Homo sapiens: one gene and its partners. The protein of the gene in region 1 purifies or fractionates together with the protein of each later gene. This does not show direct contact. Each region holds a gene or a part of one and is shown in the gene's direction. Other genes may lie near its edges.

Region 1 (4,103 bases):
AGTGCAGTGGTTAAGAGCATACACTCGAGCCAGGCAGCCTGGGTCCTTATCTGGGTCTACCACAGACTGGCTGTGTGACCTTGAGCAGCTCATATACTCTCTCTGTATCTCAGTGTCCTCCTGGGGTTGTGATGGGGAGCAAATGAGTTACATTTGTAAAGTGCTTAGAACAGTGCTTGGCACAAAAGAAGAGTTAAATAAACATTTAATACTATTATTTTACTACTTTTTTTTCTTTTTCTGTTTTTCTTTTTTCTTTCCTTTTTTTTTTTAGACACGGTCTCTGTCTGTCGCCCAGGATGGAGTGCAGTGGCATGATCTTGGTTCACTGCAGCCTGGAACTCCCTGGGCTCAGGTGATCTTCGCACCTCAGCTTCCGGAGTAGCTGGGACTACAGACATGCACCAGCATGCCCAGCTAAATTTTGGTGGTGGGGGGTATCTTTTGTAGAGACGGGGTTTTGCTATGTTGCCCAAGCTGGTCTCGAACTCCTGGGCTGACGTGATTCTCCCACCACAGCCTCCCAAAGTGCTGGGATTACAGGTGTGAGCCACCATGCCTGGCTTTTTTTTTTTTTTCCCCTCGAGACAAGGTTTTGCTCTCTTGCCCAGGCTGGAGTGCAGTGGCATGATCATGGCTGACTGCAGCCTCCAACTCCTAGGCTCAAGGTATCTTCCCCACTTGGCCTTCAAAAGTGCTGAGATTACAGGGGTGAGCCACCCCACCCTGCCTACTACTACTTTTTTTTTTGAGATGGAGTCTCACTCTGTCGCCCAGGCTGGAGTGCAGTGGCATGATCTAAGGTCACTGCAACCTCTGCCTCCTGGGTTCAAGTGATTCTCCTGCCTCAGCCTCCCGAGTAGCTGGGACTACAGACGCATGCCACCACACCCAGCTAATTTTTGTATTTTTTTAGTAGAGACGGGGTTTCACTGTGTTGGCCAGGCTGGTCTCGAACTCCTGACCCTGTGATCTGCCCAGCTCGGCCTCCCAAAATGCTGGGATTACAGGTGTGAGCCACCGTGCCTGGCACCTACTACTACTTTTATGCTCACTTGTGGATATATTCTTGCCTTTCTCTCTGAAGTGGGTAGGGGTAGAGTAAGGATATTTGTATCTCTTTGTTACAGATTGGAAGACTGAGACTCAGGTTTCGTAGTAACAGAGCTCGCTTCCATCTTCCCCTCCTCCCCTCAGACCACATGGCCTTGCTTTGATCCAAAGCCCTAACTTAAATCTTGCCCAGTAACTCCACTGAAAAAGCTTATATCACTCCTGTAATCCCAGCACTTTGGGAGGCCGAGGTGGGCAGATCATGAGGTCAAGAGATCGAGACCATCCTGGCCAACATGGTGAAACCCTGTCTCTACTGAAAATACAAAAATTAGCTGGGCGTGGTGGCATGTGTCTGTAGTCCCAGCTACTCAGGAGGCTGAGGCAGGAGAATCCCTTGAACCCAGGAGGCAGAGGTTGCAGTGAGCCAAGATCGCGCCACTGCACTCCACTCTGGTGACAGAGCGAGACTCCGTCTCAAAAAAATACACAACAACCCCCCCAAAAAAAAGCTTATAAGTTATAGCTCTCCAACCCCCACCATGCACACACTCCTTAATGGTAAAATTAAAAAGTTAGCTAGAAGTAAAATGCTCCATCACTCTCTGGACACACCTCAACCAAAACCTCAATATCAGACTAGAGAAACTGGGATATAGCTGGTGCAGGCACCTCGTGGAGTGGAAGAACTGCCACCTCCCATCCCCAAGGTATTCTGCCTCAATGTCTTCCCTCTTCTCAGTTGCTCAGCCCAGTGCTGGCTTTGAGAGCAGCTGCCCTTGATGAAACTCAACCCAGCAACCCCACCCCCACAATTAAAAGCTTGGAGCAGCCCTGTCAACTGGCAGAGCTGCCAGCCCAGGCTCCACCCCTTACCTGTCCTGTCACTGTGCAAGTTGCTTCCCCTACTGGGTTCCTGCTTCCTCCCTGTAAAATGGGGATAGTGATCTGAGTGTGCCCTGCCTTCCTCCCATGCAGGTGGGAAGATTAATGCTGTTGTGGAGGGGAGAGTACTTTGTGACCCCAAGGAGGCGGACAGCAGAGGAGCATGGTGATTTCAGTTACTAACCATCTAGCTAGATCCTGTCCACCCTGCTGGGGCCACTTCATGTAGAAGCTTCCAAAATGCTCTACCTTTCTTTGGTGTGGAGAAGACAGGAGTTGATAGGAATGGTACTCTGGGGCTTGTTCTCATTTCATTCTGATCTGATGGAGCCTTGGAATTCAGAGAGAGAAACAGGCAAGGGGTGGGAATAGAGTGTTGAGATTGCTGGAGTACATTGGAGTTGAGAATTGAGAAAGGGGGACTAGTTAGAGTCCCCCCAACCCAAGATACCTATACCTACCTTTAACCTCCCATAGTGCCCCAGGGTTCTGTGCATCTTATGTTTACATACCCGGGCTCCCAGACACACCCATGTTCACACCCCCACTTCGAAGCCAACAACTCCCTTCATTTCCGTGGACTGCCATGCAGTCACCTAGCTCCTCCTGGACACAGGTCCACACATCAACACACATTTACATACCTGGACACACACATTTCCACAGCACCCACAGGTTCTCTGGCCTGAGAACATTTAATGAGCATTTATAAAGCTTCCATGGTCTGCCGAGTCCTGTTCTAGGAACATCAGAAAAGCACCGTGGTGCCCTGAAAATCATTCTAGCTTTAGAAAGAAGGTGAGCTAGGTTTGAGTCCTAGGTCCCTCATTTTATTAGCAGTGTGACCTTGGGAAAGTTACTTAACCTCTGAGGCCCTGTGCCCCCACCCTAAAATGTCAGTGACACTCAATTCAGGATCGTCGAGGATTAAATGAAATCATGTAATATATTATTCTTGAAACTGAGGGCACTGGACAAATGGTACCCAATACAATTACTAAATTAGTGTGTTTTTAAAGGCAGCTTGGACTGGAAAAGGAAGAGGCATAACACACCAGCACACACTCCTTTAGTCTTCCTAATCCAGGCTTTGCAGAGACTCCCTGGGACCAAGTGAAACACATAAACAACTCCATCCTCCCCTCCATCTGAGGGCTTCTGCCTCTTGCCCTGTGGTTGAAGTGTTAGGAAGAGGCAGGAGAAACCCTCTGAGTCCCCCTGGGGGCTAAGGGATGCTGCTCCCGAAGTTGCAGTCACTGTTTCTAGTTTTGTTGTTCTCTTTGGTTTTCCTTTTTCTTCCCTGAGGACCTCCTCCCCTGCTCCACAGCCCGCCCCCGAGGCAGAGCTTCAGTGTTGTCAGCAGAAGGGTCCCCCAGGGACCCCCCAGTAAAATGGGTGGGGCAGTGCTGCATCTGTTGAGGCCACACTTCTCCGCTATCCTGGGATCCTCCCCAGGGCCCCACTCTGCTCTGTCCCCAAGCACTTTGAGAACCCAGGCACTCAGGCTGGCTGTCCCTTTTCTCCTCCTGCCCACCCCATCCACTCTGAGCATCAATGCAGCCGGCCAGTTGCAGGCAACCAGGCAGCACCCTGGCTGCCCAGGCAGGCTAAGAGGCCCCCACCCACTCCCCCCTCCTTTGCCAGTGGAAAAGCTTGCCGTAGGGCATAGCTTTCCCAGCCTTCCCTGCTTCAGAGGCAGGAGCATGGCACTCTGGGAGTTGTAGTGCTCATAACACTCAGGCGATCCCTGTGCAAATAACTGGAGAGAGGACTATGGTATGGGGAAGAGAAATGAGAATAAGCAGGAGTGGCTGGGGCCAGGCAGGTAACTCAAACCCAGAAGTCCTACTATTTACTTGACTTCCTACTCTGACCCATCGTCGAACCTAAGCCAGTTATATTGAGTTCAAAACTCTAACCAAATGAAATCATGCCATTTTTTCTAATAGGCATAGAAAGAAAAGATCAGGATGAGGCAGCTGGCTCCTGACCCATTCTCCCCTGACGTGGAGACCCCTCATCTTACCCTTGAGTCCTCAGGCCTAAGACCCCTCCCTGTCTTCCCAGGCTCAGCTCCGCCCCCTGCCCTAAGACAGAGAGAATGAGAGTGTGGGGGTGGCGGCGGCAGGGGGGATTTAGATAGATGTTAGAAAATCACAGATACC
Region 2 (4,103 bases), on another chromosome or scaffold:
TAGATACCTTGTTGTATGTCACTTTTGTCTAGCTTTTTTCTCTAAATGTCTTGGTAACTTCATTGTCTGGTACTGTAATAATTGGATGTCCTCCATGAGAACCCACGTGCCCTTTTATGCTAAATTGAGTAGAGCTATATTTTCCCACAGGGTGCAGTGTAGACAGAGTGAGGTTAACAGGACTGTGGAAAGATGTGGTGGTAAGATGATTGGACAGAGGCTCACAGCAAATTGAGCTGAAACTTTATTTGTAAGGAGATTCTGAGGTGATCTGAGTGCTTCTGTCTGTTGTGTGTTTGATCTGAGTTTTCTCAAGAGATTTAGTTTACCTGCTTTCTGAGATCATTTTTTAAAGTTTTCCTCCAAAACAGAGTAATGTGTAATTATGTATCATTTATATGATAGCAGAACTATCTCCTCCCTCTTTCATTAAATATTTACTTTTACATGGCTTCAGTGCAGATAGATTTTGGTGAATAAAAATGTAAACTTTGGATTCGCAAATGAAAGACTATTTTCCAGACTTCCCAAGCTACCAATAAAGAAATTTCTACATGATTTTAATAAATACACAAAAGTTACCGAAGTTGAATGATAACGTTTAAGTAAAAAGGCTTAGTATAAGTTCGTGTCCCTTCATTGGTTCAAGAACCTCTTAAGTCTGAAAATTTTTCAAGTCTTGAAAATTGTAAAACAAGGATAATTGAGGGTTTTATAAGAGGAAGTAAAAAAGAAGTTTGACATGTTCAGGTGAAAAAGTAAAACTAACACTTTTTCTTATTTTTAAGTGAGGGATCTGACTCCTTAATTTTCTAGTTTTTCTTTTAATCAAGGGCTCTATTACTGTCACCATTGAGAAATTGTAATAATATCAAGAGACATGTAGGTAAGTGGTCACTTTAGGTACAAAATATTGATTGGGTTAAGCCCAGTTGCTGGCATTGGTTGGGTGTAGAGAGTAACAAAAAAAGAAAGAAGGACGTAGATATGACTATTTAAAAGAGGCTCTTAATTTTGTAACTCCTGTTATGTGAATCTAAAGGTCTGATTGTTAAAGCAGTTGAACCCAAAGTTCTTGTTTTATGTGGCTTACTCATGGTAGTTTGGCATTGCTAACCACTCTGGGCTTGCAACTTTCTTGTTAATTTTTGCAACATTATTCTCGCTTGATTTTTTTCTTTACTTCTCTGACTGGTCTTTCTTAAACCTGTCTTTGAGTGTATACTCTTACATTTGATGTTCCTCTGGATTATCTCTTCACCCCTCTTCTTTCTCATGATGCTCTTGCACATTATTTTTAAAAATATTACCCACTCTTGATAGTGTATCTGCACTGAGACACGTACTGGAAGCTATATATTGTTTGACATCTCAATCTAAAACAACTCATCTTTCTTACTTATGACTAGAGTTCCTCCTCTTCATTTATATTCTTTTCTTGGTGAACATCAGTGTCTACCAATTTCTAAATGCAAAGGAGAAAGATACAATTTTAAGCGAAATGGTGGTGATATGCACAACTTGCAGAAGGTTACATAAAACTTGGGTTTTCAGAGATGATTTTTTCTTTTCTTTTTAGGATATGTTCAAGGAATGAGTGATTTACTTTCCCCTCTTTTATATGTGATGGAAAATGAAGTGGATGCCTTTTGGTGCTTTGCCTCTTACATGGACCAAATGGTAAGAACAGAGATTCCTTCCATTAAACTGATTTTTAAAATTTTAGTTGTATAATTTTATAGTATAAGGTTGATTTTTATATTTAGCCAACTATGATGGAACTTAAAAAAATTACCTCATGCCTTTTGTTACTTTTTCTTTTTAGTAGCCTTTCAAGGGCTTAGAAATACTGGTGGTATTTTTAATACAGGAAATAGTTTGTGCCTGTAGTATAGGAATAATCAGGATTTAATATCAGTAAATGCTTATTTTCTACTAAAGAGCCATGTGTCATTACAGAATATTGATAAAATAGATGAATTCAATTTTGTGGAATAGTTGAACTTTAATATCATCTGTTTCAGAGATAAAGCTTAGTCATGCCAAGTAATATCCTTACCTTTTGTGAAGATTTTGAATTTTGTCATTATAGTAACTGATTTTTCTCCAGATGTGTTTGAACTATTTGTAACTCTGACACTTTCTTAGGAATTCATTGTTATTTTCCCAGAAGTATGTGATTATTAGAATTGAACTGTCTATATATACATGTTAGTACAAAGAACATTTTATCTATTATCATTGTTAAATCTTTGAGACAGAGTTCTAGGATAATAGTGCAGAGAATATTGACAGGAAAATAAAAGAAAAGTCTCTTCAAGCAATCTCAGAAAAATAAAAGCAGAAGGGGTGAGACTAGATAAAGGCAGATGAAGTCCAAAGACCTGACTACATAGAGGTTGCTGTGTTTTTTCAAAATAACACTAACATACTGGATGCTGGGCCTTTATGTTGGATATTGAAATGGCTGGCTTGCTTGCAAGGGATAAACATTTTGAATCTAACCATCTGAAATATTTTCCTGTAATACAGGGTTTAACTCAGAGTTTCTGGGATACAAATGTGAAATTTGGAAGTGGTACCCTTCTCCTTTTTTCTTTACTTCTATTCTTTCCCTTTTGCTTGCCTATTTTTCTTTCTCCTTCAAATTTTCCCTGCTTGTGGCTATTTCCCCAAATCTCTTGTCCATAGATTCAACTTGTTTTTGCTTCTTTCAGTTTTTTTCTAAATGTATACTTGGTAAGATTTGATAGATTTAAAATGTTCTTTTACATTAAATTCATGAATATTCAAATTGGTTTTTTGCCATAAATTAATTTTTTTTGACTATTTGGAAGGATTATCAATGCAGTAATTTGGTAATGTCATAGTTTGTCTTCCTTCCTTTTTTGATTGATTTGTCTACCTTCTTAGTTCCATTTACTCCCAAGTGCTCTAGAAACCTGAGGCATTTGTTATAAAGGTCTGTACAGCTGATACTAATTACATAAAAACTGTTGTCTGCCTTCCTTGTGTTTTTGTTGTTTATCCTCTTTTCACCAGAGCTAGTATGTTCCTTGATAAAAGGGATTATATCTTGTTTCACTGGTAGCATACCAGAATTTTCCTAATGCCTGACATGAGGTTGTTCAACGGGTTTTTGTAGAATAAACATGTGAATCTTTCCCCAGTGATTAGTTTAAATTGCTATAGTAGATATTCTAAAAAAAAAAAAAAAAACACAACTAAGATGAACATACTGCATTTAGTATCATGCAATAAGTTTTCAATAAAACTAATCCAATATTGGCATGTAAATATATATTGACATATAATGCCACATACACACATGCATACAGACGTGTGTATATAGGTCTCATATGTAAAGACTACCTTCTGAACATGTGTAATAAACACTTTACAGTCCGTCATTTTTTGTGTATGAAGGTTCAGTTTCTTTGTTCTGTCATTTTCACAGTAAATGCTCTCTGTGTTTGCCTTTTCCATTAAGGATGTTCTGGGGATTTTTCTAGTCTTTATTCTAAAAAAGATATCTTATGATTATGTTGTCTGCTAACATCTTTTCTTTCATAATATTTGAATGAGAGGGAAATATATGGCAATCAAAATAACCTGTATGATTGTTTTTCACTGCATTGCCCTTGTTTGATGTCCCTAAATCTGTGCTGCTGTTTCTTGATTCTGTGTTTCTGTTTTATAGCTTTACTTCATGTAAGTTTGTACTACCTTTGTGGTGGCTGAACCTAACGTCTGTAAATTTACTTTTGTTGATGTTTACTTGCATCTAATGTAGGTCTAGGCATAGACTTTGTCTATTATCATGGAAATACAAAGTACAAGTGATCTGATGAACTTTGTTATACCCATCATCCATTTTGCCATATAGTTTTAATTCCTTTCTCCTCTCCATCTCCCCCTCCCCTGCCCCATACAGACACATTTATTTACAGACACATTTGAAGCCCTTTGTATATCCATTGTTGATCCCACTCTCCCTTCTCCAGGAGTAACCACTTTTTCGAATATGGTGTCTGTCATTATGGACATGTTTCTTTTTTACAGCAGAGTGGGTAGCAAATGTCTATGCCATGTTGGTATTCCCA
Region 3 (4,103 bases), on another chromosome or scaffold:
CCTATCTCTCCTTAAGAGTGTTTGTTTTTCTGAGACGGAGTCTCCCTCTGTTGCCCAGATTGGAGTGCCGTGGTGCGATCTCAGCTTACTGCAAGCTCCGCCTCCTGGGTTCAAGCGATTCTTGCCTCAGCCTCCCGAGTAGCCGGGATTGCAGGCGCGTTCCATCACTCCTGGCTAATTTTTGTATTTTCAATACAGACAGGGTTTTACCATGTTGGCCAGGCTGGTCTCAAACTCCTGACTTCAAGTGATCTGCCCTCCTCAGCCTCCCAAAGTGAAGAGTGTTCTTTGTAGGACAGGATTGAGCCGAGAGTCAGAAGAGCTGGACACGCGGGAATGGATCCTGGTGGATCCTGGAAGTTGGGAGTTGTTTAGCCCTGCATGCCAGACCTTCTAGAAGGCTCTCTGTCACTATGTTTGCTACTCGTTCATTCAGCTAGCAGCTATTGAGTGCCTACTGAGTGCTAGGCACCAGGATAAAGCAGTGAACAAGGACCTGCTCTAAGGTACACTAACGGGACCGGATGATGTAACAGACAGAGTGGGTGGAGAGGCTGGGCACGGTGGCCCACGCTTGTAATCCCAGCACTTTGGGAGGCCAAGGTGGGCAGATCACGAGGTCAAGAGATCGAGACCATCCTGGCCAACATGGCAAAACCCCATCTTTACTAAAAATACAAAAATTAGTTGGGCGTGGTGGTAGGCACCTGTAGTCCCAGCTACTCAGAAAGCTGAGGCAGAAGAATCGGTTGAACCTGGGAGGCAGAGGTTGCAGTGAGCCGAGATCATGCCACTGCATTCCATCCTGGTGACAGAGCGAGACTCCGTCTCAAAAAAAAAAAAAAAGAGTGAGTGGAGAGCTCTCTGCTGGGGAAGTCCAGGCAGTGGCCCTGGGAGCACAGCACAGGAGCCTCCCAAGGTGGAGGTGGGTTGGAGAAAGCACTCCTTGTGGAGGCAGGAGGTCACTGGGAGGAGAAGGCATCAGTGGAGTGTGCCAGCCAGGAGTAACCATACTGGAAGAGCCTGAAGTAAGAGGGAATGGGGGCTGGGCACAGTGGCTCACACCTGTAATCCCAGTACTTTGGGAGGCCAAGGTGGATGGATGACGTGGATCAGGCGTTCAAGACTAGCCTGGCTAACATGGCGAAATCCTGTCTCTACTAAAAGTACAAAAAAATTGGCCGGGCGTGGTGGCACATCCCTGTAATCCCAGCTACTGGGGAGTCTGAGGCAGGAGAATCGCTTGAACCCGGGAAGCAGAGGTTGCAGTGAGCCACGATTGTGCCACTACACTCCAGCCTGGGCGACAGAGCGAGACTTTGTCTCAAAAAAACTATTTTTTAAAAAGAGGGAATGGGGGAGCCTTATAGAGGATCAGGGCTTCAAACCCTGGTGCGTCAGTGGCAGCTGAACAGATCTGTGGAGTTAGGACCAGCCCCGGGCTGTGGCCCTGAGCAGAGGCTCTTAATGGGGGTGACGGTATGGGGATGGGGCTACCCACAAATAAGCCCTGCCCCTGGCGCTCTGATAACCACCTGCCCCCAGCCACCCACCAGAGCGTCACTGGCACAGCAAACACCACTTTCAAAGTGTTAGGTGGTATCCCTTTGCTGAGGGAGGAGAGGGGCTCTTCCCTGGGCATCTGTGGCATGTGGCCCAGCTCTAGTCTGGCCTGTGAGCCCTTCTTGATGACCTCTTCCTGCAGGTATACTTGTCACTCATCCCCATCATCAGCGGTGTCCTGCTGGCCACCGTCACCGAGTTGTCTTTTGACATGTGGGGACTCGTCAGCGCCCTCGCCGCCACGCTGTGCTTCTCGCTTCAGAACATTTTCTCCAAAAAGGTATTTGGTCACCATCAGCGGACATGCATGGGGTTTCAGGGGTGTGCGGGCAGCAAACTGGTGGCATTGGGAAAACAGGCGGAGTAGAAATTTCTTTGCTATTAGAGCAGAAAAATCTTGATTGCCATTCTGCTGATTTTCTGTTTGTCATTTTGCTTTTTAAATAGTTTGTTTTTCTGGCCGGGCGCAGTGGCTCATGCCTATAATCCCAGCACTTTGGGAGGCCAAGGCGGGCGGTTCACTTGAGGCCAGGAGTTCAACACCAGCCTGACCAATATGGCAAAACCCCATCTCTACTAAAAACATAAAAATTAGCCAGGCACGCATCTGTAATCCCAGCTACTCCAGACACTGAGGCACAAGAATTGCTTGAACCCAGGAAGCGGGGCTTGCAGTGAGCTGAGATTTTGCATCACTGCACTCCAACCTGGGCAAGAGTGAGTCTCCATCTCAAAAACAAAAAAAAGTTTTTCTATTATAAAGTTAATGTGCTCAATAAGAAAAAAATAAAGAAAAGCTCTTTTATTGAGACCAAGGCTCACTGTCGCCCAGGCTGGAGTGCAGTGGCACAATCATAGCTTACTGCAGCCTCAGTCTTCGAAGCTCAAGTGATCCTCACACCTCAGCCTCATAAAGCACTGGGATTACAGGCATTAGCCACCAGGCCTAGCTAAAAACTTCAATTTAAAACAAGATTTTAAAACTTGTTGAAGCCTAGTGCAGTGGCTCACATCTATAATCCCAGCACTTTGGGAGGCCAAGGCAGGAGGATCACTTGAGGCTAGGAGTTCGAGACCAGCCTAGGCAATAGGAATAGAGTGAGACCCCGTCTCAAAAAAAAAAATTGCTCTTAACTCCTGTGATAATCACACACTTTTCAGGTACCACAGTTAATGCAGTCTCTCTATTGGAAATACCACTTATTTCCAACTTTTCATTGTAATGTAGAAACAATCACGTGTGTGATGTTTTCCTGTCTCAGTTATTTCATTATGATAGGCTTACAGTTCTCAGGTTAGAGGGTATGAAACGTTAATCACTCTTAATATGGTTTGTCTGGTCGTATTTTAGAAAGGTTATACCAATTCAGCCTCAAACCAGTGGAATTTCAGAGTGCCTACTTCACTTCATCCTCACCAGCACTGAGTGTTACTGTTTTATTTTTGTTTTCTTTTCTCAGTCGTTTATGCGTGGAGCATGGTGCTTGTTTCAGGCCTGTGCTGTGTATGTCCTCACAAATGCACTTGCAGGTTTGGTGTCCAAGCTCAGATGTCAGGGTTAATGTCCAGTCACTGTGTTTGGGGCCTGAGTCACTGGAGCCCTTTTTGCCACATATAGTTTTAATCACCCTCTAAAGAGGCTTTCCCTTTCCAGGTCTTGCGAGATTCACGGATCCACCATCTCCGGCTGCTCAACATCCTGGGCTGCCACGCCGTCTTCTTTATGATCCCCACCTGGGTTCTGGTGGACCTCTCGGCTTTCCTGGTCAGCAGCGACTTGGTGAGTTGTACAGCACCAAGAACACGCCATTTTCTTGGCTAGTTCCAGAATAGGTGCTTTGTTGAGGAGCTGTAGCTGCATGTTAACATTGTGGTATCTTTTGGGCACCTGACAGCCAGCGCTTTCAGCAGTCAGTCCTCTGTAATGCCTCACGGTGACGATGCACGCCATCGAGGAAGTGGGTTTCCTGTGTATTTCCTTCTCTGGTGTGCTTGATCCCAGGTGCTGATAGCTGCTGTGTGTGCGCCAGTAGCGTCAAGGAAGAGAAGGTGACTCTTTCACCTCCTGACAGTATAGTCCAGATAGCACATTGACTTTTTATTTTTACTCATTTTTTATTTTAAATGTTTATTTTTTAGAGACAGAACCTCGCTCTGTTGCCAGGGCTGGAGTGCAGTGGCACAATCATGGCTCACTGCAGCCTTGACCTCAATCCGGGGCTCAAGCGATCCTCCCACAGCCTCCCGAGTAACTGGGACTGCAGGCGAATACCACCATGCCTGGCTAATTTTTTTTTGTTTGATTTTTGTTTTTTTACTGTTTTTGGAGAGACAGGGTCTCACTATGTTGCCCAGGCTGGTCCTGAACTCCTGGCGTTAAGAGATCTGCCTTGGCCTCCCAAAGTGCTGGGATTACAGATGTGAGCCACTGTGCCTTGCCAGCCCTGGAACTTTGAAAACTATGCACTGGCCAAAAAAAAAAAAAAAAAAAAAAAAAGCCGGGCGCAGTGGCTCACGCCTGTAATCCCAGCACTCTGGGA
Region 4 (4,103 bases), on another chromosome or scaffold:
TCCTTGGCACTGATGTAAGAATCTTTTGTTTTCCACTTAATAAGGAGGCTTAATCCTTTAATATACTCTTACACTACTATAAGTACCACTGTACTTAACAGTACAGATTGTCATTGCTCTTGCAATGTGAGGACATTTTGCAAAAACCGTTGGAGACATATATTCAGTATTATTTGTGTACGGATGTAGGTACCTGAATTGATTCACTAGGTTATGTTATGCAGCAATAAAATGATTGAAACCCCAGAAAGCTCTGGTACTGTGTTTAGCTTATTTTAATAGGTCAAATATGCTAAAAAAAAAAAAATTTCAGTATTACATTGGTACTTTATACATTGTATTTATAGAAAGCTGGGAGTTTTCTAATTTTAAAACAATTTATAATCATTTTAATGTAATGAGGTGATTGGTTTTATATGCAGCTTAACTAGTTTTTTTTTTTTGGTCACTGTAGAAAATGATGAAAGATAATAACTTAGTAAGGCATCTGGATGCTTGTGAAACCATGGGAAATGCTACAGCTATTTGTTCAGATAAAACAGGAACTTTGACAATGAACAGAATGACAGTCGTTCAAGCTTACATAAATGAAAAACATTATAAAAAGGTTCCTGAACCAGAAGCTATTCCACCAAATATTTTGTCCTATCTTGTAACAGGAATTTCTGTGAATTGTGCTTATACATCAAAAATATTGGTAAGGTTTTTGAAATAATTTATGAAAATTAATTTTTAAATCTATAATGATCAGACTATATGTAAGTCTTCAGACCACCATTACTGTATGTAAACTGAACTGTTAAGTTTTTAAAAGGCATATATTTATTTATATAATGGTTTTTAAATTTGTGTTATGAGTGAGGTCTGCTGATCAACATAAACATTGTTTGCTTACATTTTTCTCCTATATTTTGAATTTCCTGTGTTCAGAAACTCTCCAGCCTTATAACCAGAGCATGTATTTAATTTTAAATTCTTGTTAAGCTCATTTTTGAGAAAGATCAAACTGTCTTACTATAGGAGGTCAGCTCTCAACTTACAGAAAATTTTTAAGCCGATTTCAACTTAAAATAACATGTTTTATATATGGTTGCCATGTGTTCTGTTTGGTTTCTCAGTAGTTCCTACCTAAAAGGTGGTCCTTAGACCTTTTTAGAACTAATGCAGTAAAGTAATTCTAGACTTGTGCCACCATATAATAAAAAATTTTCAACTTACAAGTTTTAAAAATCTTATTTATAACAGAAAGAATGCGATGTTATGTTTGACTTAATCTCTTCTAGTGATTTATGGATGAAAATCATTAACAAAAATAATATTGCAAGCTGTTCATTAGGGAAAACATACATGAATTGGATGATTACATTGGAAAGTTATGGGATCTTGGTTCTAGATCTAGCTTTGCCTTTTACTAGCTGAAAGTCTGAGCTACCTTCTTTAATTACTGAGTAAAGATGATCACATCTGCCCTTAATACCATTGTGATAATTATGTAAAGTGGTATTTCTGAAGGCACTATGAAGGAATTGAAGCTTCTCACTGCATTTAAGAGAACAGTATTTTAATGAATGTACTTTTAAGCCATAAAAATTGGTAGATTTAATTTTGAATGATTTAGTATAAAAGTTAAGTGAAAACAGGAAAAGGAAATTAAAATTAAGTTCCACTCTGTATTAGGAACCAACTATAAACTTCATACATCTTATATCACTTAATTTTGGGGTCATAAGTGCTCCTATTTTACAGATGCTGAAGCCAAGGACCAAAGCAGTTGGGTAATTGTCAAATTTCACGTAGCTAGTAACTGGCAGGACTGAGATTAGAATCCATGTCATTCTCACCCCAGGCTCCTTTCTACCTTACTTTTCTATATCCTTCTTTAAAATGTTGATATTAGACAATTGCTTTGTAATTTTATTTTAGAATATCGCAGTCTGTTTTACATTATAAATTAAACGTTCTTAGAGAAACGAGATACTAGCTACTAAATGTTTTTCTCTTATAGCCACCAGAGAAAGAGGGTGGATTACCTCGTCACGTTGGTAATAAAACTGAATGTGCCTTGTTGGGACTTCTTTTGGATTTAAAACGGGATTATCAGGATGTTAGAAATGAAATACCAGAAGAAGCACTGTACAAAGTCTACACCTTCAATTCTGTTAGGAAGTCCATGAGTACTGTCCTGAAAAATTCAGATGGAAGTTATCGAATATTCAGCAAGGGTGCATCTGAGATAATTCTGAAAAAGTAAGAGTAAAATGCTTGGATGAATAAATTGCTGACTATAGTTGCTTTATGGAGTATCTACTGTGTTGTTATTGTTGTTGTCTTTTTGTGAACATCAGGCATTTGATAGGACCTCAGAGTTTTTTAGCATATTTTATGGTATCCAGATATTTGCCCCTGCTATTCTGCCATTTTCACACTCTAGCTTCTCTTATTTCTTAGCATTTTGTTATAGGGAAAATAAGCTCATTACATTCAATCTGGTATGTTTAATGAAGTATACTTTGATGTTTATTTTTAGAAGTCGATTTACTTGTTATTTAATATGCAGAATCTTGAAAAGCCTCCTGGGAAGAAAATCAAGTTTATGTCTTTCTTTCTTTCTTTTTTTTTTTTTTTTTATTTGTTTAAGGTGGAGTTTCCCTGTATCACCCAGGCTGGAGTGCAGTGGCGCGATCTCAGCTCACTTCACCCTCCGCCCCTGGGTTCAAGGGATTCTCCTGCCTCAGCCTCCCAAGTAACTGGGATTACAGGCACCTGCCACCACGCCTGGCTAATTTTTGTATTTTTAGTAGAGTCAGGGTTTCACCATGTTGGCCAGGCTGGTCTTGAACTCCTGACCTCAAGTAATCTGCCTGTGTCGGCCTCCCAAAGTGCTGGGATTACAGACGTGAGTCACTGCACCTGGCCTCAAGTTTAGATCTTCAACGCTCATTGTGGTTACTGGACTCTGAATGTGATAAGAGAATTATGAAGTAATTTTTAGAATAGCAAAGCATAAAAGCTGGATCTTGGAAATTCCCCATTTATATCAAAATGAGATTTATCATGTTTATGCTGCTGCAGTGTCGTATTTAAATATCTCCTGTCATTTTGAATACTAATTTTTCTTACTGTCCTTTTACAGATCAGTAGCTTTAATTTTGTTATTACATGTTCACATATAATTTCCCTGATGTTTATTTGTTATTAAAGGTGGTGAAATTATTTTAGTTTCTTTAATTTCATTAAAGAAGTAGAGAACTGGTTAAAAAAAAATACTGGTTAAGAGCAAGTTGGGAAAATTGGAACTCATTTGAAATTATAATATTTAAAATATTAAAGTAAATGTTTAAGATATACTTTTAATTTGCTTACATGTGGATTATAAGCCAGTATTAATGAACACTTTACAATTAGTTTAAGAGACAAATATATAAATAAATAACTGAAGGCAGCATATAATAAATTGGTACAAAGTTTTTGGGTGAGAGATCACACTGTAGGGATGTGGCATTTAAGATAGATTTTGGTATGAAATGAGAACTTCGAGGTGGGGAAACCACAGCAGAGGAAAGGAGATGAGAATATGCAGGTCATACTGGGGAGGGGAATATCTGGTTGTATAGTTCAGCTGAATAGTGATGGGCTTTTGTGGCACACAGGCCATATACAGCTTTCTTCTTGCCACAGTACACTCAGTTACCTGATTTCATTGAAAAGGTTAGAAATCTGTTTCAACCCTGGCTTGCTGGGTAGTAGATAGATGGTTTAGGAGAGAATTTTTTTTAGTCAAAACTGATCAGGCATTGACTCTTTCTCTGCAACTAACTAGCTTCTGGATATGGGGCAGATTTTTCCCTTACTTCCATTTTTCTCATCTGAGAAAGCGGGTGATGACCACCAACTCTGTGGCACTTAAATGAAGTAATGCATACCAACTGTCTAGTGTGAAGCCTGGTGGACAGTAAACATACAGCAAGTGTTCCCACAGTAATATTTGCATTTTGTTGTGGAGACTTTTTAAATGTTGGGCTGAGCAGTTAAAATTGAAGTAAGCCAGATAATGCAAATGAGGTATTTTTTTCTTCAAGTAGTAGAATCATCAAAGCTGTGAT
Region 5 (4,692 bases), on another chromosome or scaffold:
GGCCCCACTGCTCTGCCATCTCTTATTCCACTCTTCCCCTAACTTACTTTGCTTCAGTTATGGCCTTGTTTGCCTCTTGTCCCCCAAATTTTGTTTTATTCACTGCTGTATCCCCAATACTGATAACAGTGCCTGGCAGGTACTGTTAGGTACTAATAGGTGCTCAATATAATAATCTGGTAAACATAAAGTGTTTTTTTGAGTTCTGTGAGCCATTCTAGCAAATTATGGAACTCAAGATGGGGGGTTATGAAAACCCCAATTTATTTGTTGAGAGGGAGTCTCTCTCCATGGTCCAGGTGCAGTGGGGCAGTCTTGACTCACTGCAACTTTCGCCTCCCAGGTTCAAGCGATTCTCTTGCCTCAGCCTCCCAAATAGCTGGGATTACAGGTGTGCACCACCACGCCCAGCTATTTTTCCTATTTTTAGTAGAGGTGGGGTTTTGCCATGCTGGCCAGGCTGGTCTTAAAGTCCTGACCTCAGGCGATTCACCTGCCTTGGCCTTCCAAAATGCTGGGATTACAGGCATGAGCCACCACGCCCGGCCTGGAAACCCTAATTTATAGCTGGTTGGTCAGAAGCATAGGTCACAACCTGAGACTTGTGATTGATGTCTGAAGTTGGGGCCATCTTGTGGGACTGAACTCTTTATAGGATCTGACCAAATAACTCTTCCTCGAAACACAAAGTTAGGGCTTTTGCATCCACTGTTCCCCAGATGGGAAGATGAGTCCCCTGATCTTTGTACGGCTAGTTCTTTCTCATCATTCAGGTCCCAAGCTTCAAAAACCACTTCCTCAGCAAGGCCCTCCCTGAAGTTGTGTCCCCAGGCTCCATTATATCACCCTGTTTTTCATCAATGTTATTACCTATCATTACCTATTATTTTTGTTGTTTAATTGGTATGTCGTTTGTCCTATTCTATTTCAATGAGTACAGGGATCTTGTCTGTACCATCCATGCCTAAAACAGTGCCTGGTGCGTATTAGGTATTCAACATATATTCATTGAATGAATGAATGAATGAATGAATGAATGAATGAATGAAAGAAACCCAAGCCTGCTAGACCTCAAAAGCCCAGAGAACTGTTTTCTCTGGCTGGTTCTTCATTCAGACGATATTTTCTCCTCTTGACATTTTATAGTCTTCCGGCCTCCATGCGCAAGGAACCATGTAAAGGTTCTGAGCCTTGAAACCAGACAATGTATTTCCCTGTTACTTTTCGCTTGAATCTTCTCTGTATTTAGCAACCAGTCATAGAACACTAACCATGTACCAAGCGCTATGCTAAGTGCTGAACACATAGAGCTGAATAAAGCACAGAACTACCCTTGGTACAATTATTGAGGTTTTAATAATACATAATTTGACTACATTTCTTAGATTTCGCGTCGTGACGTTTTCAGCCTCTCAAACTGCATCGCCTACGCACAGAAGCTTCCCGAATCTCAGACGAGACACAACAAAGCTGCGCGCTGCCCTCGCCCCGCCCGCGGGCGCGGCGGCGACAGGCCCTCGGCCCCGCCCACACCGCGGCGCCACGCCTCCAACCCGCCTCCAGCCGTGCCTCCCCAGGCCCTTGGCCCCGCCCACACCGCCTCGCCCCGCCCCAAGCCGCGCTGTGCTCCAGGGGCGGGGGCCCACGGCGGCCACTCACTGAGCCCCACGGGCCGCAGCGGCAGTGACGTAGGGTTGGCGCACGGATCCGTTGCGGCTGCAGCTCTGCAGTCGGGCCGTTCCTTCGCCGCCGCCAGGGGTAGCGGTGTAGCTGCGCAGCGTCGCGCGCGCTACCGCACCCAGGTTCGGCCCGTAGGCGTCTGGCAGCCCGGCGCCATCTTCATCGAGCGCCATGGCCGCAGCCTGCGGGCCGGGAGCGGCCGGGTACTGCTTGCTCCTCGGCTTGCATTTGTTTCTGCTGACCGCGGGCCCTGCCCTGGGCTGGAACGACCCTGGTGAGTGCTGCCAGGGCCCTCAGGCGCTTCGTTCGCCCTTTTCCGCCGCCGTCAGCCGGTGCAGGCTCCCCTGCGTTTCCGTGCGCCGTCTTCCCGGAGCCTGGGTGCCCGGATTCCCCATGTCTGACCTCTTTGCTGTTCGTGCTCTCCCTGGTTCCACTGCTCTTCCCAGGCGTCTTGGGAGGCGGGTAGGGACTGCTCGAGTGGGCGGGGCGGGACGGCTGGAGATCCTTAAGGTCCCCTTTCTCCCTGCCCCGGACTCCCGGAATTTGCCCATTGTCGTCTTTCTCATCTCTGAGTATAACTGGAGAGCTGGACACTCACCTGCGCATCTGCTTTGTTGTTATGGCTGTGTGATGTCATCGTGGCCTGCTGTTGTCATGGCTGCCTGTTGCTATCGCCGGCCGTTGCCTGCCACTGGCAGTCTCTGAGTCACCCTTAGCGGACAGGGCTGCAGACCTCGCAGGTCTGTTAGCAGAATCGCAGATTGCACTCTTTTTTTTTTTTTTGAGTCGGAGTCTCACATTGTCGCCCCGGCCGCACTGCAATGACGTGATCTCGGCTCACTGCAACCTCCGCCTCCTGGGTTCAAGAGATTCTCCTGCCTCGGCCTCACCGGTAGCTGAGATTACGGGTGCCCACCACCATGCCTGGCTATTTTTTTGTATTTTTAGTAGAGACGGGGTTTTACTATGTTGGCCAGGCTGGTCTCGACCTCCTGACCTCGTGATCCACCCGCCTTCATCCTCCCAAAGTGCTGGGATTACAGGCGTGAGCCACCGCGTCTTTATGAGAACCGCTGCCTCTTATCTGACGATTGCAGTGATGTACATCGCGCGGCACCAGCTCTTCCCATTGGCTTTCACCGTAGAGAAGAATTTAAAAAATAATTTTCTCGGTTTTTTTTAGTGATGGTACATGATAAGTGGGTTTTAGGAAAGAGGTTCTTTTATGTCAGTACAGTATTAAAATTGTCTAAAGAATTTTCATGGGATCAGTAATATTCCGTGCAATTAATACGTATATGTCTATATACTTAGATACAGATTTTGACTTTTTCCATGTAATAAATGACGCATGCTGTTACTTTGGAATTCTGTAAAAAAAAAAAAAAATGAAAACAACATCATTTTTGCTTTGCGAAGTAAAGATGGCATGGAAAGCATATTGCCTTTGTGATTTGGTGATTGGAAATGCCTGCATTGTCGAATTTAAGCAACAGGTTTATTTCTATAATAGCCTATTCTTACATGCTGAAATGAGAGAGAAGGTGCTATTTGCAAGCACATCACGTTGAGTAGTCATTTGATGTGGACATTTTATTACCAAAAATAAAAAGCCAAGTTGTATTTAAATGTCTGTACGTTTTTCTTTTGTATTTCTAGAAAGCTGTGTATGAGTGGGAGACTTGATCAGAATTACAAGTGAAAACCTAGAATGAAACTTTAATTTGTTGAACTTTGAATCAGTTCGTAAATAAATTTAATAAAGGAAGTTTACAGTTGAAGAGCCAGAAGAACTATAAAAACTATGAAAGAAGAACCAAATTTAAATTAAAGATGAACCACTTCCTGGTTTATCTACGCTGTAAAACTATTGTTCTGGAACACAAAGCACCACAATATTTTGCAGAGTAAACTCAATTGTTTTATGTAAATTCTACTTCAAAGTTTACTTTGAGGAACTTTTTTGTTTTGTTTTGTTTTTTTGAGACAGTTTCACTCTTGTCGCCCAGGCTAGAGTGCAATGGCGCGATCTTGGCTCACCGCAACCTCTGCCTCCTGGGTTCAAGCGATTTTCCTGCCTCAGCCTCCCGAGTAGCTGGGATTACAGGCATGTGCCACCATGCCCGGCAAATTTTGTATTTTTAGTAGAGACAGGGTTTCTCCATGTTGGTCAGGCTGGTCTTGAACTCCCAACCTCAGGTGATCCGCCCGCCTTGGCCTCCCAAAGTGCTGGGATTACAGGCGTGAGCCACCGCACCCGGCACTTTGAGGAACTTTTTAAATGAAGATACTTTATTGACATACTATTTATTAAGTCCTTTACTAAAGCATTAATCGGCTCCCTAATTTATCTTTTGTTTGACTTGGATGCCATTACTTTAGCTCACATTGAGCAGTAATTTGTCTGGAAAAAAAAATTAGCACCATTCTAAAGAGATTACCAATGAATTTTCAAAATTCCTTATTGAATGTAATCTTATATTAAGTTACTCTTCCGGGTGTTGGGAATATAGCAGTGAACAAAACAGTGTCTTGCCTCCAAGGACTTTACCTCTATTGGGGAGAAATAGACAATAAACAGATAAACATGTAAATAACATGCTATATTGTGAAAATTGGTATGCACCGTGTATGATAAACAGCGTAAGGAGGACATGGTGTGCGGGCAGAAGTGGAGACTTAAAAAACGTACATTGGTCAGGGAAGTCACTGTTAGGGTGACATTTGACTGGAAACCTGAAGTGGGGAGGAGGAGTAAATGACCTGAAATTACTTATATCTTTAAAGGCTCATTTGGGCTGCTCTGTGGAAAACAGACCGAAGAGGGTAGGAGGGAAGCAGGGAAACCAGTGAATTAATATATATTGCTATCTATTTTAATATTGTACAGTAAGTTCTTAGAGTGGTGACCGCTTGGCCCAGGGCAGGAGCAGTAGAGAGCTGGTTAGAGTAGCTGGATTCTCTTGTCACCTGTTTGGAAGGTGGAGCTAACATGATCTTCTGAAGGATCAG
Region 6 (4,103 bases), on another chromosome or scaffold:
TACAGATCCCACCTTTTCTCAGAGCTTGGTTCCAACAGTGTGGCCAGCTGGATGATTTCGTTTCTATTTCAGTCTTTCTTTGGCTGTGCAGCCAAATCAGTCCACAGGCATACTTTCAGGCATCCAACAAACCTTGAGCTGTTCAAACAAGCATGCATGTGTGTTTCTGACTTTTTGATGGACTCTGCATCGTGGCTTGTCTACTGGATCATCAGACTGTTGCTCTACCTGTCAGACATACCACGATCGTGACTCACTCTCTTTGTGTCTGGCACCTTGTGTTGCACTGATTTTCTCCTTTCTTTCTTTCTCTTTCTTTCTTTCTTTCTTTCTTTCTTTCTTTCTTTCTTTCTTTCTTTCTTTCTTTCTCTCTCTTTCTTTCTTCCTTTCTCTTTCTTTCCTCCCTTCCTTCTTTTTTTTCTTTCTTTCTTCCTTTTTTTTTTTTTTTTTGAGTGTCTTGATCTGTCACCCAGGCTGGAGTGCAATGGCGCGATCTTGGCTCACTGCAACCTCTGCCTCCTGGGTTCAAGTGATTCTCCTGCCTCAGCCTCGCGAGTAGCTGGGATTACAGGCACGCGCCACCATACCTGGCTATTTATTTATTTATTTATTTTTTTGAGACAGAGTCTCCCTTTGTCGCCCAGGCTGGAGTGCAGTGGCGTGATCTCGGCTCACTGCAAGCTCCACCTCCCGGGTTCATGCCATTCTCCTGCCTTAGCCTCCTGAGTAGCTGGGACTACAGGCACTCCCCACCACGCCTGGCTAATTTGTTTTGTATTTTTAGTAGAGACAGGGTTTCACCATGTTGGCCAGGCTGGTCTCAAACTCCTGACCTTAGGTGATCCACCCGCCTCAGCCTCCCAAAGTGCTGGGATTACAGGCGTGAGCCACCACACCTGGCCTGGACTGATTTTTACATTGAGTCTGACTGATTTGGGGTGTTTGACCTTCTGGTTGTGCAACCACTTGCGAAGTCTGATGGCAAGTTTTGTCCAGCTGTGTATGTGTTAGCTGTGTCCCACTGATAGTATCTGACAATCTCATAATCAGCTTGACTGTTTTTGTCAACCCTATTGTGCCGTTTGTCACTGTGACCACCTGAATGACTTCTCAAGCTGAGGTTGTCAGCTTAACTCTCCTGACTTAGGGCAGAAAGCTGCCTGTCCAGCTGTCTTCTGTGAGTGTCTGCCTGACAGTTTCCTTTGGCTGGCAGCTAGGCACTGTGTCTTCCTGTCTCTCTAGGGACTGGTTCTTGAAGGGAAACCTCCTCATCATCATCGTCAGTGTGTTAATCATCCTGCCCCTCGCCCTCATGAAACACTTGGGTAAGAGGCTCCCTGGGTTGGCCATTGGGTAGTGGGATTAGACAGAAGAAGCCAGACTGAGAAAACCCCCATTCATTTTCAAGGGCTGCAGCACACTAGGAGAGAGCTTATTTGATGTGGGCTTGAACAGATTAGTAGGAGTTTGCTATGGAGGGGAGGTTTTTCTGGGTGGAAGTAGAAGCTTATGCAAAGGTAACTGGGGTGGGTAGACCTTGAAGGCTAGACTAGGTGTTTGGAGTTCACTGTTCCGGGGGTCCATTGATTTTTTTGTTTTGTTTTGTTTTTTTGAGACCGAGTCTCACTCTGTCACCCAGGCTGGAGTGGTGCAATGGCGTGGTCTTGGCTCACTGCAACCTCTGCCTCCCGGTTCAAGCGATTCTCCTGCCTCAGCCTCCCGAGTAGCTGGGATTACAGGTGTATGCGCCACCACACCCAGCTAATTTTTGTATTTTTAGTAGAGATGGGGCTTTGCCATGTTGGCCAGGCTGGTCTCGAACTCCTGACCTCAGGTGATCCACCCGCTTAGGCCTCCCAAAGCGCTAGGATTATAGGTGTGAGCCACCACGCCTGGCTGATTTCTGAGACTCTGTGTTTTGCCCCTCTTAGGCTACCTGGGGTACACCAGTGGTCTCTCTCTGACCTGCATGCTGTTTTTCCTTGTTTCGGTGAGTCACAGAGAAGCGGGGAGAGAGTTTGGGACATTGGGACATAGCTTCCTCCATGACCTGGCTTCCCTGCTGCCCCCATCCTCAGGTCATCTACAAGAAGTTCCAACTTGGCTGTGCTATAGGCCACAATGAAACAGCAATGGAGAGTGAAGCTCTCGTGGGACTCCCCAGCCAAGGACTCAACAGCAGCTGTGAGGCCCAGATGTTCACAGTTGACTCACAGGTGTGTGTGCAGGCATGTAGGAGATTGCATCACACTCAGGCCCTCTGGTTCTGTCATATGGTGCATCCTGCTCAGAGTGGAGCTGGATATTCGACATTGGGAGCTTCTATGTGTCTGATATGGAGGGCGATTACGGGGCGGGAGGGGGATGGGAAGAAGGGGATGGACCCCTGTTGGCTCTAATCCCATGTACTCGGGCATTCCCCTAGATGTCCTACACAGTGCCCATTATGGCTTTTGCTTTTGTCTGCCACCCTGAGGTGCTGCCCATCTATACGGAGCTCTGCCGGTGAGTGGGCAGGCAAGTGGGCCTGAATGATGGGCCAGCAAGTGGGGTGGTAACCAGAATGTCTGACACTCCCTACAGCAGTCCTGGGACTGTCACTTGGTGGAAGCTAGGTTGTGTCATGGGAGGGGTTTGGGGTGGCCAGGAGGTCTTGGGGCACTCAGGGTAGTGACTGTTTGCTGATTGGGGCTTAAGTATTCTCCTATTTTAATATCCAGCACAAATGTGGATGGACAGAGTTGGGAAGCAGAGATCAGATGATCAGATGGAGGGGGTGATATGCATGGCTGGTGATATGGGGATAGGGAGGTACGGACAGACAGAGGCGGAGGCAGGGATGATATGATGGGAGATGTGTGGATGATCAGACAGAGGGACAGCATGGATGGTCAGATGGAAGAGGCAGTGGCAGTCAAACGCAGGGGAGAGGGAGACAGTCATATCGGGGGAGATATGGATGGTCAGAGAGGGGATTTTGGCTAGTCACAGGGGAGGCAGAGACGGGTGTCCCCATGTGTGCCAGCTGAATGGCAGTCTGGGAGAAGGGGACTCTGGAGGGTGGAGGCTGGCTTTGAGGGACCTGGGGCAAGTCTCAGGGTCTGGGCATGACAGTTCCACGACCTCTACACCTCAGGCCCTCCAAGCGCAGGATGCAGGCCGTGGCCAACGTGTCCATTGGGGCCATGTTCTGCATGTATGGGCTCACAGCAACCTTTGGATACCTCACCTTCTACAGTGAGTGGGGCTGGGGCTAGGGCTGGGGGGAGGGGGAAGGCCTGGGGCAGGAGCCTCTGAGCTCTTTCCTTCTGTGACCACGGACCTGTCAGTTTCCAAACAGAAGGTGTGCCTCACTTGTGTGGATTTTGTCACTGTGCATGTATGTATGGGTTTCTGGGGCATTGGTCCTGGTGCTCTCTCCACATCCTGCATCCCGTACCCTCTGTCTCATGGCCCAGGCAGTGTGAAGGCGGAGATGCTGCACATGTACAGCCAGAAGGACCCGCTCATCCTCTGTGTGCGCCTGGCCGTGCTGCTCGCGGTGACCCTCACTGTGCCAGTCGTGCTGTTCCCTGTGCGTGGGGCCCACGGCTGAGAGGGACATGGATGGATGGGTAGAGGGCATAGGCATGGATGTGTGGGTCAAGGCTGGAAACAGGAGTGGATGGATGGATGAAGGAGGCAAGGATGGACAGACAGGAAAGGGCAGCGTTTTCAGATGGACAGAGATGGCAAAAATCGATAAACAGAAGTGGGGAGGACATAGATAGCAGGAGAGAGAGGGTCAGGGGACAGGGTAGTCAGTTGGAGGGAGGAGGCACAGATGGATGGCTAGAAAGAAGAGGGAGGCAGGAAGGGTCAGTTGGAGGGTAGAATTAAGAAACAGGGATGGACAGAAAAAGGGTGGAGGCTGAAGTGATGGGATGTAGGAGGGTCAAGTCTCCCAGATGGGGAGGCAGAACTAATTAGACAGAGGAGGGAGGTAGAGGTCAGATGGAGAGAGGCAGGGAGCTCACACAGGGTGGAAGGATCGGTGGATGGTCAGACAGAAGGAGAAGGCAAAGATGGTCAGCTAGAGGAGGAGGCAAGGATTTCAGACAGTG
Region 7 (4,103 bases), on another chromosome or scaffold:
TTTCTTTTACACAGAAACAACCATCTCAGTTTTAATGTTTTCCTATCAGCCACTTGGTAAAAGAGAGTTTATGTCCCCATCTACCTTGTGTTCTTTTGGGGGGTAAGAAGACCTAAATGTAAAAATTTTTTAATTAAGATTATCCAGCAATTTTGAGTTCCTACCAAGTGTTCTTAACTACTGGGTTTAAAACTTTGGGGATTTAAAAATGAATTGTGTTTATTTACTTGTCTGTCCAACTCATATGTTAATTGAAGTTGGTTAGCATCATGTAAATAAGTTTTGAGTAAAATGAAGGGTTTTTTTTTTTTGAGACGAGTCTTGCTCTGTCGCCCAGTCTGGGGTGCGGTGGCGCGATCTTGGCTCACTGCAAGCTCTGCCTCGTGGGTTCATGCCATTTTCCTGCCTCCGCCTCCCGAGTAGCTGGGACTACAGGCGCCCGCCACCACCCCCCAGCTAATTTTTTGTATTTTTAGTAGAGATGGGGTTTCACCGTGTTAGCCAGGATGGCCTCGATCTCCTGACCTCGTGATCCTCCCGTCTCGGCTTCTCAAAGTGCTGGGATTACAGGCGTGAGCCACCGCGCCCAGCCAAAATGAAGTAATTTTTGTTGTTGTTATTTTGTTTTGTTTGTTTTGTTCTGAGACGGAGTCTCCATTGCCCAGGTTGGAGTGCAATGGCCCGATTTCATCTCTGCCTCCTGGGTTCAAATGATTCTCCTGCCTCGACCTCCCGAGTAGCTGGGATTACAGGCGTATACTACTATACCCGGCTAATTTTTGTATTTTTAGTAGAGAAGGGGTTTCGCCATGTTGGCCAGGCTGGTCTGGAACACCTGACCTCAGGTGATCTGTCCCCCTGGGCTTTCCAAAGTGCTGGGAATGCAAGGATGAGCGACGGCACCCAGCCCAGAAGTCATGTTTTTTAGAGTACCTAGTAGGTCTATTGGCATGGTAATTAAGCTCTTTACGTTTCATTTAATTATTTCATCCATATAAAGAAAACTTACTTCATAATTACAGGTTTAAATGTCTTCTACCTGGAGTATTTAAAACTCAAGAGGTGTTTACCCTTGACTGAGCTTAATAGCCATGCCAACAACTTGAAGAAAAATATTGGTAGTCAGCGTCATTTTCTGTTTTAAAGTACGTTAAGTACAAGTGAGTTATAATTAGGAGTCTGTTCGATGTTTTTATCAGCCATAGGAAAAAATAATTTTAAGTTTACAGGAAAAGAAATTTATAATAATTTATGTGTAAAATTATTCATGTCAATTCCTCTTATATGTACTATATTTTACGTTTTGGTCATTTTTAGCCCCATATAAAAATAATACCAGGTCATATTTCTTTTTTTTTCTTTCTTTCTTTTTTTCTTTTTCTTTTTTTGAGATGGAGTCTTGCTCTGTCACGCAGCCTAGAGTGCAGTGGCGTGATGTCAGCTCACTGCAACCTCTGCCTCCCGGGTTCAAGCGATTCTCCTGCCTCAGCCTCCCAAGTAGCTGGGATTACAGGTGCCCACCACTGCGCCCGGCTAATTTTTGTATTTTTAGTGGAGACGGGGTTTCACCATCTTGGCCAGGCTGGTCTCAAACTCCTGACCTCAGTTGATCCACCCGCCTGAGCCTCCCAAAGTGCTGGGATTACAGGCATGAGCCACCGCGCCCGGCCAACCATATTTTTCCCTTCCTTCCTTCCTTCCTTCCTTCCTTCCTTCCTTCTGTGTGTGTGAGAGATGGAGTCTCACTCTGTCACCCAGGCTGGAGTGCAGTGGCATGATCTCGGCTCACTGCAACCTCTGCCTCCCAAATTCAAGCAATTCTCCTACCTCAGCCTCCTGAGTAGCTGGTATTACTTACAGGCACACACCACTACTCCTGGTTAATTTTTGTATTTTTAGTAGAGACAAGGTTTCACCATGTTGGTCAGGCTGGTCTCGAACTCCTGACCTCGTGATCCACCTGCCTCGGCCTCCCAAAGTGCTGGAATTACAGGAGTGAGCCACCTCACCCGGCCAATACCAGGTCTTATTTCTTTTTTCCTTTTTTTTTTTGAAACGGAGTCTCAGTCTGTCATCCCAGCTGGAGTGCAGTGGTGCAATCTCGGCTCCCTGCAAGCTCTGCCTAGCTGAGACTACAGGTGCCCGCCACCACGCCTGGCTAATTTTATGTATTTTTAGTAAAGACTGTTAGCCAGGATGGTCTCTATCTCCTGATCTGGTGATCTGCCCGCCTCGGCCTCCCAGAGTTCTGGAATTACAGGCATGAGCCACCGCTCCCGGCCTCCAGGTCATATTTCTTAAAGAATATTTATAATCTTCTGCATAATGGAGTGGTAAAAAGGAATAAAAGAATATTTATTTATATTATAGGAGAAAGCCAAATTATGTTTGAGAGTTGCAGATAAGGGAGATTTTTAACATTTTAAGACAAATCAAGCATTAATGTGGATTTGGCCAAGATTAACTATTTGCATGCATATACCTTCTATTTAATCATGGGTTTATGAGGAATTTTTTTTTTTTTTTTTTTTTTTTTGAGACGGAGTGTCGCTCTGTCACCCAGGCTGGACTGCAGTGGCGTGATCTCCACTCACTGCAAGCTCTGCCTCCTGGGTTCACGCCATTCTCCTGCCTCAGCCTCCCGATTAGCTGGGGCTACGTGGTGGCACCTGCCACCACCCCCGGCTAATTTTTTTGTATTTTTAGTAGAGACGGAGTTTCACTGTGTTAGCCAGGATGGTCTGGATCTCCTGATCTTCTGATCCTCCCGCCTCAGCCTCCCAGAGTGCTGGGATTACAGACGTGAGCCACCGTGCCCAGCCTATGGGGAACATTTTTAATTAAATAAGAAATTGTTTCATTTCAGCTTCTACCATAGTCTCTTGGATTCACTTGGTATAATGTGACAAAACTTTGCATGTTAAAAGTTTTGTTTTTATTTTGTTTTCTTATTTCTAAGCTTTTTATTTTATGTATCTTGCTACCAATATTTTTAGGTGTTGAAACTACCTAGATTGTGGACACAAAAATAAACATTTACAGAGTTGGCAGTCTGCCTTTTTGTTTTAAGAGGCAGAGCCTGAAGGTGTAGCTATTTGGATCTAGTGGAGCATAATATTCTTGAATGATCTGTTCTGGTGAATTATGAGTGTGTGTTTGAGAAGGAGTCTTGCGCTGTCATCCAGGCTGGAGTGCAGTGGCGCGATCTCGGCTCACTGCAACCTCCACCTCCCGGGTTCAAGTGATTCTCCTGCCTCAGCCTCCTGAGGAGCTGGGATTACAAGCGTGCACCACCATGCCCAGCTAATTTTTTTATTTTTAGTAGAGACAGTTTCACCATGTTGGTCAGGCCGGTCTCAAACTCCTTCCTGACTTTGTGATCTGCCCCCCTTAGCCTCCTAAAGTACTGGGATTACAGGCGTGAGCCACCACGCCTGTCTGTGTGTTTGTTTGTTTTTTTAAGAGATAGGGTCTCGCTCTGTCCCTCAGACTGTAGTGCAGTGGTATGATCATAGCTCACTGCAGCCTCAAACTCCTGGGCTCAAGCCTCTGGAATAGCTGGGACTACAGGTGTGTGCCACCATGCCTAGCTGATTTTTAAAATTTTTATAGAGATAGTCTCACTATGTTGACCAGGCTGGTCTTGAATTCCTGGCCTCAAGGGATCCTCCTGCTTAGGCCTCCCAAAGCGTTGGGATTGTAGGTGTGAGCTGCTGCTCCTGGCCAAATTATGAATTCTCAATAGGAAATATTTGAAGACCTGGAAAAGAACATAAAAGCATGCTACCAATAGGAAATGTTAATTAAATCACAAATTTACCACCACTGTATAATAAGGTGTTAAGTTTACAGACTTGTGAATAATAGAGTTATAGATTCAAATTCCAGGTCTGCCACTTATTCATATGACACTGAACAGTGTCTTAATCTAAGATCCTCTATTTTCACCTGAAATAGAGGAATAACCTAATAGCTACTTAATCAGATTGAGGAGTACATGCCATTGCATATGTGAAGTGTCTAGTGCTTAGTAATTAATAGCCATTAAATGATTTCTGAATTTTTGTCTTTAATGTCAGGGCAATATAGTGCAATGTTACTAA

The links.
Region 2: the proteins of TMEM63B (region 1) and TBC1D15 purify together in Homo sapiens (co-immunoprecipitation; one large-scale study listed by IntAct). This does not show direct contact.
Region 3: the proteins of TMEM63B (region 1) and SLC35E1 purify together in Homo sapiens (affinity purification with mass spectrometry; one large-scale study listed by BioGRID and IntAct). This does not show direct contact.
Region 4: the proteins of TMEM63B (region 1) and ATP2B1 purify together in Homo sapiens (affinity purification with mass spectrometry; one large-scale study listed by BioGRID and IntAct). This does not show direct contact.
Region 5: the proteins of TMEM63B (region 1) and SARAF purify together in Homo sapiens (affinity purification with mass spectrometry; one large-scale study listed by BioGRID and IntAct). This does not show direct contact.
Region 6: the proteins of TMEM63B (region 1) and SLC38A5 purify together in Homo sapiens (affinity purification with mass spectrometry; one large-scale study listed by BioGRID and IntAct). This does not show direct contact.
Region 7: the proteins of TMEM63B (region 1) and TMPO purify together in Homo sapiens (affinity purification with mass spectrometry; one large-scale study listed by BioGRID and IntAct). This does not show direct contact.

The regions. Positions count from the first base shown.
Region 1 is NC_000006.12:44,130,186-44,134,288, forward strand, and holds part of TMEM63B (mechanosensitive cation channel TMEM63B), read left to right. Parts: intron 1-2,031; exon of another isoform or gene 2,032-2,101; coding exon of another isoform or gene 2,102-2,104; intron 2,105-4,103. UniProt on the Homo sapiens protein: Mechanosensitive cation channel with low conductance and high activation threshold. Osmosensitive cation channel preferentially activated by hypotonic stress.
Region 2 is NC_000012.12:71,912,247-71,916,349, forward strand, and holds part of TBC1D15 (TBC1 domain family member 15), read left to right. Parts: intron 1-833; exon of another isoform or gene 834-886; intron 887-1,579; coding exon 1,580-1,680; intron 1,681-4,103. UniProt on the Homo sapiens protein: Acts as a GTPase activating protein for RAB7A. Does not act on RAB4, RAB5 or RAB6.
Region 3 is NC_000019.10:16,565,772-16,569,874, reverse strand, and holds part of SLC35E1 (solute carrier family 35 member E1), read left to right. Parts: intron 1-1,705; coding exon 1,706-1,843; intron 1,844-3,217; coding exon 3,218-3,343; intron 3,344-4,103. UniProt on the Homo sapiens protein: Putative transporter.
Region 4 is NC_000012.12:89,618,143-89,622,245, reverse strand, and holds part of ATP2B1 (plasma membrane calcium-transporting ATPase 1), read left to right. Parts: intron 1-454; coding exon 455-697; intron 698-2,005; coding exon 2,006-2,247; intron 2,248-4,103. UniProt on the Homo sapiens protein: Catalyzes the hydrolysis of ATP coupled with the transport of calcium from the cytoplasm to the extracellular space thereby maintaining intracellular calcium homeostasis.
Region 5 is NC_000008.11:30,080,109-30,084,800, reverse strand, and holds the start of SARAF (store-operated calcium entry-associated regulatory factor isoform 1 precursor), read left to right. Parts: upstream 1-1,736; 5' UTR 1,737-1,851; coding exon 1,852-1,954; intron 1,955-4,692. UniProt on the Homo sapiens protein: Negative regulator of store-operated Ca(2+) entry (SOCE) involved in protecting cells from Ca(2+) overfilling.
Region 6 is NC_000023.11:48,460,120-48,464,222, reverse strand, and holds part of SLC38A5 (sodium-coupled neutral amino acid transporter 5), read left to right. Parts: intron 1-1,242; coding exon 1,243-1,325; intron 1,326-1,931; coding exon 1,932-1,990; intron 1,991-2,078; coding exon 2,079-2,216; intron 2,217-2,425; coding exon 2,426-2,505; intron 2,506-3,136; coding exon 3,137-3,237; intron 3,238-3,458; coding exon 3,459-3,574; intron 3,575-4,103. UniProt on the Homo sapiens protein: Symporter that cotransports neutral amino acids and sodium ions, coupled to an H(+) antiporter activity. Releases L-glutamine and glycine from astroglial cells and may participate in the glutamate/GABA-L-glutamine cycle and the NMDA receptors activation.
Region 7 is NC_000012.12:98,518,590-98,522,692, forward strand, and holds part of TMPO (thymopoietin), read left to right. Parts: intron 1-4,103. UniProt on the Homo sapiens protein: May help direct the assembly of the nuclear lamina and thereby help maintain the structural organization of the nuclear envelope. Possible receptor for attachment of lamin filaments to the inner nuclear membrane.